3 linked regions of the Homo sapiens genome follow. The protein of the gene in region 2 interacts with the protein of the main gene of each other region in a pairwise test. Each region holds a gene or a part of one and is shown on either strand. Other genes may lie near its edges.

The links.
Region 1: the proteins of SFXN5 (region 2) and STOM interact in binary tests that used the Homo sapiens proteins (3 or more experiments, as listed by UniProt).
Region 3: the proteins of SFXN5 (region 2) and APOL2 interact in binary tests that used the Homo sapiens proteins (3 or more experiments, as listed by UniProt).

The regions. Positions count from the first base shown.
Region 1 is NC_000009.12:121,360,147-121,363,796, forward strand, and holds part of STOM (stomatin), read right to left. Parts: intron 1-3,650. UniProt on the Homo sapiens protein: Regulates ion channel activity and transmembrane ion transport. Regulates ASIC2 and ASIC3 channel activity.
Region 2 is NC_000002.12:72,956,570-72,960,219, reverse strand, and holds part of SFXN5 (sideroflexin-5), read left to right. Parts: intron 1-3,116; coding exon of another isoform or gene 3,117-3,240; intron 3,241-3,650. UniProt on the Homo sapiens protein: Mitochondrial amino-acid transporter. Transports citrate. Does not act as a serine transporter: not able to mediate transport of serine into mitochondria.
Region 3 is NC_000022.11:36,225,680-36,229,648, reverse strand, and holds the end of APOL2 (apolipoprotein L2), read left to right. Parts: intron 1-1,368; coding exon 1,369-2,245; 3' UTR 2,246-3,440; downstream 3,441-3,969.

The sequences.
Region 1 (3,650 bases), on a different chromosome or scaffold from region 2:
TATCCTGCATAGTAGAATAGATATAAAATAAAATACTTCTCAGCAAGTTTTCTAGCTAGATATGTCTTTTTCTTTCCTTTGAATCTCGATAGCATTTTTTGAAAATTATCTTATGGCACTTATATCTTGTCTAATCTTTTATTTTTTATTTATTTTTAATTGACCTTCCAATGTAGGATTTTAATCTTTTATTATTTTTTAATCTAATATTTTAATTTCTTGTGCATTTATATCCCTTATTACACTGAGATTCCCTGAGAACGAGGAGTAACTATGTTTGAATTTCACTTCTGATACTTCTTAGTTGCATGATCTTTACCTCTTTGAACCTTAGTTTCCTTACCGGTGGAAAGTAAAGATTATTAGGCTGGCCTTGTAGAATACAGATAAAATGATCAGTAAATGTAGATGATAGTTTTCTGTAATCCTTCTATTTTACTTAAGTGTTTGTATCTTCATGAAGAAAAATGGGAAAATAGCATTTACCCTTTTTGATCAAAAGCCTCTTAAACAATTTAATTTGCCATTTGCTTCATACCTGCCCCCAGTCTGGCTAGGCTGGGACATTCAAAGACTCTCAAAAAGTTCATTTATGATCTACATGAGGACAAGCCAAAAAGTTCAGCCCAGTTTTTTTTGTGTCAGTTCCCATGTCACATTGTGTTTTTGAGAACCCCAGATGTGTATATGGGATTGCAAATCACCAGGAACAAGGAATTAAGTACACATTTTGAAAACTGGATTTGGTCTTTCACATATCAAATGCTTGGCTAGAAATAATCAGTGTATACACTGGGAAAATGGCACTTTCATATTTTTCTAATGACTTTAAAATGAAAGTATCCTACCTTCACCTCTCAAAATTCTTCCCCACCTGGTTACCCCTCAAAAAGGTACACAGTATCTAAGTTGGGAATGCATCACTAGAGTTCTGAGACTGAAATCTGATGTTTTTACAGAGGAAGCCCTCTTAATTCCAGCTGTGTCTATTTATAGCATGTTGTGCTATAAATGCATAGCTCAGAGGTGAGGCTTAAACTCTAGCAGGCTTATAAATGAACCCTTAGTCATCTACCACTTCTGGGAATAAGAGAAAAGAAATTCTCACTCACTAAAATCTCAGGAAATTCATTTCCTTCAAGTTTCCCATGTATTACTTTAGGACTGAATCCTTCCTACCAGTTTTATGGGGAAAGGGACAAATAGTGATATTTTGGTTAATACACTTGTGGACTTTTTTTTTTTTTTTTTTTTTTTTTTTAGATGTAATCTCACTCTGTCGCCCAGGCTGGAGTGCAGTGGCGAGATCTCGGCTCACTGCAAGCTCTGCCCCCTGGGTTCACGCCATTCTCTTGCCTCAGCCTCCCCAGTAGCTGGGACTACAGGTGCCCACCACCATGCCTGGCTAATTTTTTGTATTTTTAGTAGAGACGGAGTTTCACCGTGTTAGCCAGGATGGTCTTGATCTCCTGACCTCGTGATCCTCCGGCCTCGGCCTCCCAAAGTGCTGGGATTACAGGCGTGAGCCAATGCACCCGGCCACTTGTGGGTATTTTGCTGGTTGAGAATGTTCCTAAAAATTAGGGATCCTATGATACTTGGTTGTAAATACTACTTTGCCATAGTTTAGAGCAATGGTCCCCAACCTTTTTGGCACCAGGGACCAGTTTCGTGGAAGACAATTTTTCCACAGGAAAGGGTTGGGGAACATGGTTTTGGGATGAAACTGTTCCACCACAGATCATCAGACATTAGGTTCTCATAAGGAATACACAACCTAGATCCCTCATATGTGCAGTTCACAATAGGGTTTGTGCTCTTATGAGAATCTAATGTTGCTGATCTGATCCGTCTGTGGCCTGGGAGTTGGGGACTCCTGGTTTAGAGTATTTTTTTTTCTTTTATTACCAAAATGGCAGTAGAATAAACTTTTAACTAATCAAAGAAGGGTCTGAATATGGACATAAGCCTGTACATTTGAATTTTTGTATTGAACATTCAAGTTGGGCTTACCTCCAGGAAACTCACATACATTTTCTAAAATTGCTTTTTTACTTTAAAAGCAAAAGTTACTATAAAAATTAGAAATGATAGCTCAACAAACAGAAACATTATCTATACTTTATCTCTGGATGTTTTTTGCCTTGATATACGTCTTTTAAACCTTTTCTAGCCTGTATTTTTTCAATAATGAAAGAATGGTATACACAGTGATTTAAAATCTTCTCCCTCCCATCCATGTTATGAACATTTTTTCATATCAGCACATATTCTTTATCATTATTAAAGATTAATTAATTAATTCCATTTTATATGATGAAATCTGTTGTGTCCAAATTTCTCACTTAGAAACTGCTGCATTGAATATATATTTAGCAGTGTTTCTGTACCTGCTTATTTCCTGTGTAAGTTAATTTTTCTGAAAAGATGAAATTATACAACTCTTAAAATTCTCTCATTCTGAAGGTATCTTTTGTTACTACTCCTAATAACTACCATTTATGAATTCCTATGACATGTTAGCCACATGTAGCTCCTCCTTACATACATGAGTATTTATAATGTTTACAAAAATCTGTGAAGTAGGTGTTAAAATATGCCTCCTGAAGTTCTAAAGTAATAAGGCTAAAGACCTTGTAGGAAGAAACAAAAGAAAACCAAGCAAACCATGAAACAAATGAAATTTGTTGTGTAGTAATTTTTGTTGGGTAAGTTTCTGGAAAGGCAGTTAAACATTCTTTCCAAGATGACAACACAGGCTGATTAGTCCAGAGGGCTGTAGTTGTCCCCGTTCCCCATCAGCTGATTTACTTTCAGATCTATTAACCTTAGCACTACTGGAAATCATGTGGAGTAATAAATCCACTCATCACTGAGATTTTATTATTGTAAAGTTCAACAGATAACTGGATTTCCTCTGCTGAGAATCTGACTGTGAGTCATAAGCATTATCCTACACAATAAGAAAGGATGGGCTAAGGAATTACTGAAATACCTAAACTGCCACTTTTTAACGGACACTTTTTTCCTTCTGCCTTCACAGAGTGCAAATAAAACACTTCATGTTGTAAATTGATGAGAGCAGTCCTGCCTGGATGGGGCAAGACAGAAAGGCTGGAAGTTTAGTCTCAAAAACACATGCTATTCAGTTGCAGCAGCACTTTTTAGGGGTAACAGTAGGCCAAATTGAAAAGTCTTGGCAATTTTTGAACTTTCTTCTTAAAAACATATGTATTCAGGATTAAGTGTTACTTTTGGCCACTATGATTCTTCATCAGTGATTCTTTGTCAGGATTGGCAAACTTTTCCTGTAAAGAACCAGGAACTAAATATTTTGGGCTTTGCAGTCTGTTGCAACTACTCAACTCTACTTTTGCAGTGCAAAAGAAGCCATAGATAGTACCTACATAAACAGCACAGCTGTTCCAATAAAACTTATGGACATAAATCTGAATTTCACATAATTTTCATGTGTAATGAAAAAGTATTCTTTTGCCTTTTTAAAATCATTTAAAAATATAAGAGCTATTTCATAACTTGTGGGACATACAGAAACAGAGTCAGCTAGATTTGGACAATGGGCTGTTACACGCTGTTCCTGTTTTATGTCAGCCAACTATTTATTTGAGGAGGAAGACTTGCATAAATTA
Region 2 (3,650 bases):
GGAGCCTGTGGGATGTTGGCTCTGGGTCTGGAATGAGGAGAGACGCCTGGGCTGGAGGGATAGAAGTAGAGCCTACCAGCATGACAACAGTGCTGGAATCGAGGGTGGTGGGTGAGGCCTCCACCCTGGCGGGGTCCAAAGACAAGCAGCCAGGGTGGTGAGGGCAGATCCGGGCCATGTGTGATCAGGGTGGGTGGGGGGCATCCACAGGGTCAGACCCTCCTGAGAGGTCACACTCCATGAGATTACAGAGTATCCATTAGTGTCTCAGGCAACGTAGCCAAACCCTGTCCCCAGAGAAGGGATCCAGGTGACAGGTGAGGGGAAAAAATGAGAAAGACAGGTCCACAGCCGCAACAAGATGTGGGATCAGGAGGGGCTTTTATTTATGTATTTGTCCTTGTTTTAAATGGGAGAGACAGGGGCTTGCGTAAATGCAGTAGAGAAGGCACCAGGAGAGATGTCGAGGACGCTGACAGGACGATTTTGGGAAAGTCTATGAAGAGGAGGGGGGACCAGAGCACAGACGAGGGGATCAGCCTTGGCACGGGGAGACCCCTCCCCACTTCAGTAGGTGGAAGAGGAGTGGGGTGGGAGGAAAATGCTGCTGGGGGTAGGGTTCAGGGGTAGGAAAATTGAAGAAGTTGTTCCAATGGCTCCTGTGTTCTTGTGACTGAGCAGACAGGAGAGAGTAGGGTGGGGAAGGGGCAGGAAGTCAGAGGTCTGAGGACACAGAGAAGGGGTGAGACATCCAGGGGAGAATGAGAGGTGAGGAGGCTGAGCAGCACGTGGTCTGGGAGTGCAGCCGGGCCTGTTCACCAGGAGGTGCTATGGGCCAGTACAGGGAGGGCCACAGATCCTTTCTTCTGGGGTTTTGTCAGGTTGGGGGTGAGGGGGGCTGAGAGATGGGTGACAGCACGGAGGAGCAGAGGACCACGGGATCCACGCTGGGTTGGAGTGAAGGTGGGAGCTAAGCTGAGGGGAAGGCACAGACCCAAGAGGGCCCAGGAGGTGTCTGCATTGAGCTCACAAGAAGGCGAGGGCTGTGGCCAGAAAGCGGCGCTTCTGAATCTGTGATTTCACCATGGACCTGCTTCAGGCAGGGCCCCAAGAGAGGTGGAGGAGAGGTGAGGGCTCCTGGAGACAAGTCGGGGAAGTGAAAACAAGAGGCCGGGGCTGTTGGGGCTGCGAGGGCTGGAGACCCAGGCTCTTAGAGCAGGAGGAGGGGGTGACCCGCCTTAGGCCCTGGAAGGTGAGAAATGGGGTGGCTTCCTTCCAGAGCCCCAGAGTTTGAGGAGGAGACTCTGTGGGAGTGGGGCTCCTGTCTTGGGGGACACCATTCAACGCACACCAAGATTAAAGCTAGCAGGACCTCATCTCATGCCCACAGCGGCCAGCCTTGTCATGGGTGCTGGGATGCTCCTTCCCCCACCTCTCACCCTGGGAAACCTGCAGCCTGGGACTCCAAATGGAGCCATGGGCTCTGGGTTGCCTAGTAGCCCTGAAGAGGGAAGGCGGGTATTTCTCAGTGGTCTCTGACATCCCTGTCCCAGCCCAGCACTCCCTGAAGCCATTGCATCTGTCTGTGCAATCAGCCTGAGCCCAGGGTCCTAGGCCAGGGCCAGAGTCACCCATGTGTTTATAGGTACCTCTGTGCTTCTAGTAGCTGTCATAACTCCACCTGCCTGCACAGAGAAGGGACCCAGGGCAAAGAAAATACTGATGCAGAATCAGAGACCCTCCCAGTTAGAAGGATTTTCAAGGTCATCCAGTTTACCTTGCTACTGACTTTGCTGGGGAAATGGTGGCCCAGAAAAGCCATGGGACCAGCCCAAGGTTGCAGAAGTCAGGTGCCGATAGGAGAGGAAACACCAGAGGTCCACACTCCAAGTCCAGGCCCCTAGGAAGTGCTACACCTGATCATTTCCTGTGGCTGAGTTTCTCTCCCTAGTCAACCACCTTACCTACCTTGGGACAGCCAAGAGAAGAGGGAGCTGGGGGCTGCACTGTGGTGGGTGGTAGGAAACGGTCTAGAAGAGCTGTAGGTCTTTGGCAGGTGTTCCTCTGGGGCATATAATGGGGAGATGCCTACCATTCACCCACCCAGGCCTCCAGCTCTGGCTGCAAAGCAATGATGGAAAGTGAGCCACCCTGGTCTCACAGCTGCTGCAGGTCAAAGCCCAGGCTCCCCTCTCCCCACATGCCTACTTCAAATAGACATGGGAGTTAGTTCTTCTGCATATTTAACCAAAGTCCCTCTTATTGCAATCCAAGCCTCTTTCTCTAGATTGGGAAGAAGATAGTCATTGCATGTTAAGTCTTTGTTCCTCTGGGAAGGGAGGGTACAGGCATGATTTTCAGAGCTCCCTCCTCAGCTATGTGGATCCCAACAAGATGCAGGCTAGCCTGGGCATTATGGGGTGTTTTGAGCCCTGTTTGGGACCCATGGCACCAAAGCCTTCAGCCAACTTGCCGAGAGGGCCTTGTTTCCGCATTCACTCTCCCAATTAATTCTCCCTAACAAGGTGCTTCTTCTGCCATACAGGGATCATGTCTCACATCCCAGAAGCCAGTGGGATTTGCCACAATAAGTCTGGACTTGCTTGGGCTGACCCAGCCTTGCCAAAAGCCACCAAGGTTGTCAACAGAAGTAATCACTGGAACACCAATTAACTAATCAGGGGACTCGGAGGTAGAATTTAGGAACTAGTTCCTAGAGTGGCTGGCCTGCAGTGATTGTTGTGGAGTTTCCAACTCACTAACCCCAGAGATTGAGGCAAGGACTTCAATCCTTCCTTCAGTTCCTGGGGGAGAGTTTTATCTGCTCTTTTCAAATTAGTAGTTCTGCTTATTAAAATGGTACTGAGGGTCAAACTGCAAATAATAATAATGGCTACCATTTGCCAGATATCTATTGGACCAGGCAGCATGCTGGGAGCTCGGTGTACCTTACTGTATTAAGTCTTCCTAATGCCCCTTAAGTCTAAAACATTGAACATCAAGAGATGATTCCTAGACAGTCAGATGGCTCTGGGGAGAGAGTTTGGCTGGAGATACGGAACCTTCAGTGTATGGGGGGGAGTTGAAGCTGAGAAAGGGGATGTGGTCCACTATAGGAGGAAGAAAAACCATCAAGAAGGGGAAGAAGCAGCCAAGGGCACAGGGAGAACCCAGATGGAGTAACTTCATGGAAGCTGAGGACTTGGGCGATTCAAAGAGGAGGGGCTGTCTCCAGAGTGGGTGAGTGCAGAGGGGACTAGGAGTGGAGGAGACTTAGGTGGCATAGCTAGACATGGCAGTCTAGGAGGCAACATGGTATTCAGTTTCTTCTTTGTTCAGATGATTGAGCTCAAAGATGGGGAACTGTGGGAGAACAGCAAAGAAACTGTGAGATGGAGGTTGGGGGGCTTGGAGAGAGGGCAATGATGGGGAAGGAATGCCCAGAGCCCAAGGCGGGAAGGCATGGCCTCTATGGAGTCCCTGGGTCCAGTGAGTAGAGGGGGCTACCTGGCTGTGGTGGAGAAATGGGGGCCTGGATCCTGAGAATTCTCCAAGGTAGGTATCAATATTCCTTGTTTACCAATGAGGAAACTGAGGCACATTAAGGTTAAGTACGTTGTCCAAGATCCAAAGTTGTTGACGATGGAGCA
Region 3 (3,969 bases), on a different chromosome or scaffold from region 2:
TAGAAGGACTCACGTAACTCACTGAAAACTGCTATTGCACGATTGTGGTTTATCACAGGGAAAGAACACAGATTAAAATCAGCCTAAGGAAGAGACACACAGGGCAGAGTCTGGGAGGATTTCAGGTGTGAATCTTCATTGTCCTCAGGAGGCTGTGTTCTCCTGTGTGAATGTGGGACAAAACACATGCGGTGTTGCCAACCAGGGAAGCTCACCCAGTTAAGGAAAAATTCCTGTGAATCACATTAAACCAGAAATGAAGCCTTTATTCAGGATTGTTGTTACAGGGGAGGGAGACTGAGCCCAGCTCCAAATATAGTAAAGACAGAGGGGGAGTCACAGCCAACACCAGGGTGGGGGCGGGAGATGGAACAGGACTGACAGGAGACGCCAGAGTGGGGGGTTCCTGCTAAACTGGCCTAACAGGATTCTCGCCAAAGGCAGGTCAGACCCTCAACCACCAGTGGTGGGGGTGAGGAGCATGATCAGATAACAAACGGTGCTCAGACAGCAAGCGGGGAGGACCCTCCCTAAACTGATTTGGGGAGATTCTTGCTGAGCCAAGGTGGTGCAAGTCCAGAAAGCAGTGGGTGAGTGTGGAAGGCCAAGGTCGGCGCCTAGTGGAGAAGAAGCTCTGAAGAGCCCAGCTGGAGTTGGTCAAGGAGAAAGTCCTTCTTTCTCAACCCATGCCTTAGTGTCCAGAGTATCTGCTGGGGCTGGATCACAAGCTGCCCTCATGGCTAGAGTCTCCAGCCCTTCCCTGAGATCTCACACCTTTAGTCCCCAAGTCCTCTGGAAGTCAGGAAAGACACCAAATAGCCCCAAACCCTATCATCCATCACATCGCTATACTGTCCCGTGGCCAAATCACCAGGCAAAGAAAGATGTTCCTACCAGGCAGGACATTCCAGGGGCCTGGAGATCACTTCCCAGGAGCTGAGGACAAAGGGAAGGCCTCTCTTTGGGTAAAGTTCATGCTTCACTTTCCTGCCATCCTGGTAATAAGGTCTCTTTGTCTCACTCTCACTGCTCTTTGTTCATCTGCAGAGTTTTCCCTCTCCAAACACTTTGGCAGTCACGGTGTTGACCTGCCCTTGAGTGAGGAGGCATCTTTATCAAACACCTACCATGAAAGAGCATCTGAGGTGCCTTTAAGATATTTATTTCCATATGGAATAAGTACTGAGGAATATCTATGATGAACAAAATGTGTTTGAGTTTGAAAGATAATTAATTCCATTTGTAAAATTTGTTTCTATTTGATTGATAGTGAAAGCTCTGCAATTTACACAGGATAGAGATCGCATGGAGCTCATTTCACAGATAGGGAAACTGCATTTCTTAATCCTTTAACCTTTCCTTGTGCAGGGATGAGGCAGATGAGCTCCGTAAAGCTCTGAACAAGCTTGCAAGTCACATGGTCATGAAGGACAAAAACCGCCACGATAAAGACCAGCAGCACAGGCAGTGGTTTTTGAAAGAGTTTCCTCGGTTGAAAAGGGAGCTTGAGGATCACATAAGGAAGCTCCGTGCCCTTGCAGAGGAGGTTGAGCAGGTCCACAGAGGCACCACCATTGCCAATGTGGTGTCCAACTCTGTTGGCACTACCTCTGGCATCCTGACCCTCCTCGGCCTGGGTCTGGCACCCTTCACAGAAGGAATCAGTTTTGTGCTCTTGGACACTGGCATGGGTCTGGGAGCAGCAGCTGCTGTGGCTGGGATTACCTGCAGTGTGGTAGAACTAGTAAACAAATTGCGGGCACGAGCCCAAGCCCGCAACTTGGACCAAAGCGGCACCAATGTAGCAAAGGTGATGAAGGAGTTTGTGGGTGGGAACACACCCAATGTTCTTACCTTAGTTGACAATTGGTACCAAGTCACACAAGGGATTGGGAGGAACATCCGTGCCATCAGACGAGCCAGAGCCAACCCTCAGTTAGGAGCGTATGCCCCACCCCCGCATGTCATTGGGCGAATCTCAGCTGAAGGCGGTGAACAGGTTGAGAGGGTTGTTGAAGGCCCCGCCCAGGCAATGAGCAGAGGAACCATGATCGTGGGTGCAGCCACTGGAGGCATCTTGCTTCTGCTGGATGTGGTCAGCCTTGCATATGAGTCAAAGCACTTGCTTGAGGGGGCAAAGTCAGAGTCAGCTGAGGAGCTGAAGAAGCGGGCTCAGGAGCTGGAGGGGAAGCTCAACTTTCTCACCAAGATCCATGAGATGCTGCAGCCAGGCCAAGACCAATGACCCCAGAGCAGTGCAGCCACCAGGGCAGAAATGCCGGGCACAGGCCAGGACAAAATGCAGACTTTTTTTTTTTTTTTTTTTTTTTTTTGAGATGGAGTCTCGCTCTATCGCCCAGGATGGAGTGCAGTGGCTCAATCTCGGCTCACTGCAAACTCCGCCTCCCGGGTTCACACCATTCTCCGGCCTCAGTCTCCCGAGTAGCTGGGACTACAGGCACCTGCCACCACGCCCGGCTAATTTTTTTGTATTTTCACTGGAGACGGGGTTTCACTGTGTTAGCCACGATGGTCTCCATCTCCTGACCTCGTGATCTGCCCACCTCGGCCTCCCAAAGTGCTGGGATTACAGGCGTGAGCCACCGCGCCTGGCCAAAATGCAGACATTTTATTAGGGGGATAAGGAGGGCAAGGTAAAGCTTATGGAACTGAGTGTTAGTGACTTTGGCATTTGTGTAGCTGAGCACAGCAAGGGAGGGGTTAATGCAGATGGCAAGTGCACCAAGGAGAAGGCAGGAACACTGGAGCCTGCAATAAGGGAGGAGAGAGGACTGGAGAGTGTGGGGAATGGGAAGAAGTAGTTTACTTTGGACTAAAGAATATATTGGGCGAAGAATAGAGGGGGAGCTTGCAGGAACCAGCAATGAGAAGGCCAGGAAAAGAAAGAGCTGAAAATGGAGAAAACCAGAGTTAGAACTGTTGGATACAGGAGAAGAAACAGCAGCTCCACTACCGACCCCCCCCCAGGTTTGATGTCCTTCCAAGAATAAAGTCTTTCCCTGGTGATGGTCTCTCGCTCTGTCTTTCCAGCATCCACTCTCCCTTGTCCTTCTGGGGGTGTATCACAGTCAGCCAGTGGCTTCTTCATGATGGTGGTTGGGGTGGTTGTCATGTGACGGGTCCCCTCCAGGTTACTAAAGGGTGCATGTCCCCTGCTTGAACCCTGAGAGGCAGGTGGTAGGCCATGGCCACAATCCCCAGCTGAGGAGCAGGTGTCCCTGAGAACCCAAACTTCCCAGAGAGTATCTGAGAACCAACCAATGAAAACAGTCCCATCGCTCTTAGCCGGTAAGTAAACAGTCAGAAGATTAGCATGAAAGCAGTTTAGCATTGGGAGGAAGCACAGATCTCTAGAGCTGTCCTGTCGCTGCCCAGGATTGACCTGTGTGTAAGTCCCAATAAACTCACCTACTCACCAAGCTGGACTTGTTCGAGTCATTCTTTGGTCTCTCAGCTCCTTCTAAGCTTTGGGGGCCATCAGTCTCAAGTTTTTCTCGTAATGGTGGTGATGGTGGTTGTGATGGCAGCAGAGTGGTGGGGGCCTTGGCAAGTGGTCGGTGCTCTTCCAGACCAGGGGACACCGATGGACCGATGAAGTTCCAGGGGAACTTGAAGTGCTGTGTTGGAAAGAGGTTAATTTGGGAAGAAAGGAAAAATGAAAGGAGATGCCAGGAACAGGTCAAGGAAGCTTGAGGTGTGTCCAGGAGTTCAACCCTGCTTGTGGTCATGAGACTTCACCCCTCTGAGCCTCAGTTTCCTCATCAGCTGTAGAAGGGGGCTGGAAAAGGTGATATCTCAGGTCCACCTTGCTCTCCCCATCTTGTGTTCTGGAGACTTGAGTCAATCAGCACTGACTGATGGCTGTGACTTTGTGGTGCCGATGGAGGCTCCCCTGGGCTCTGGGTGCCTGACTTAACCTTCCTCATGATCCTTCTTCCAGGGTCTCAG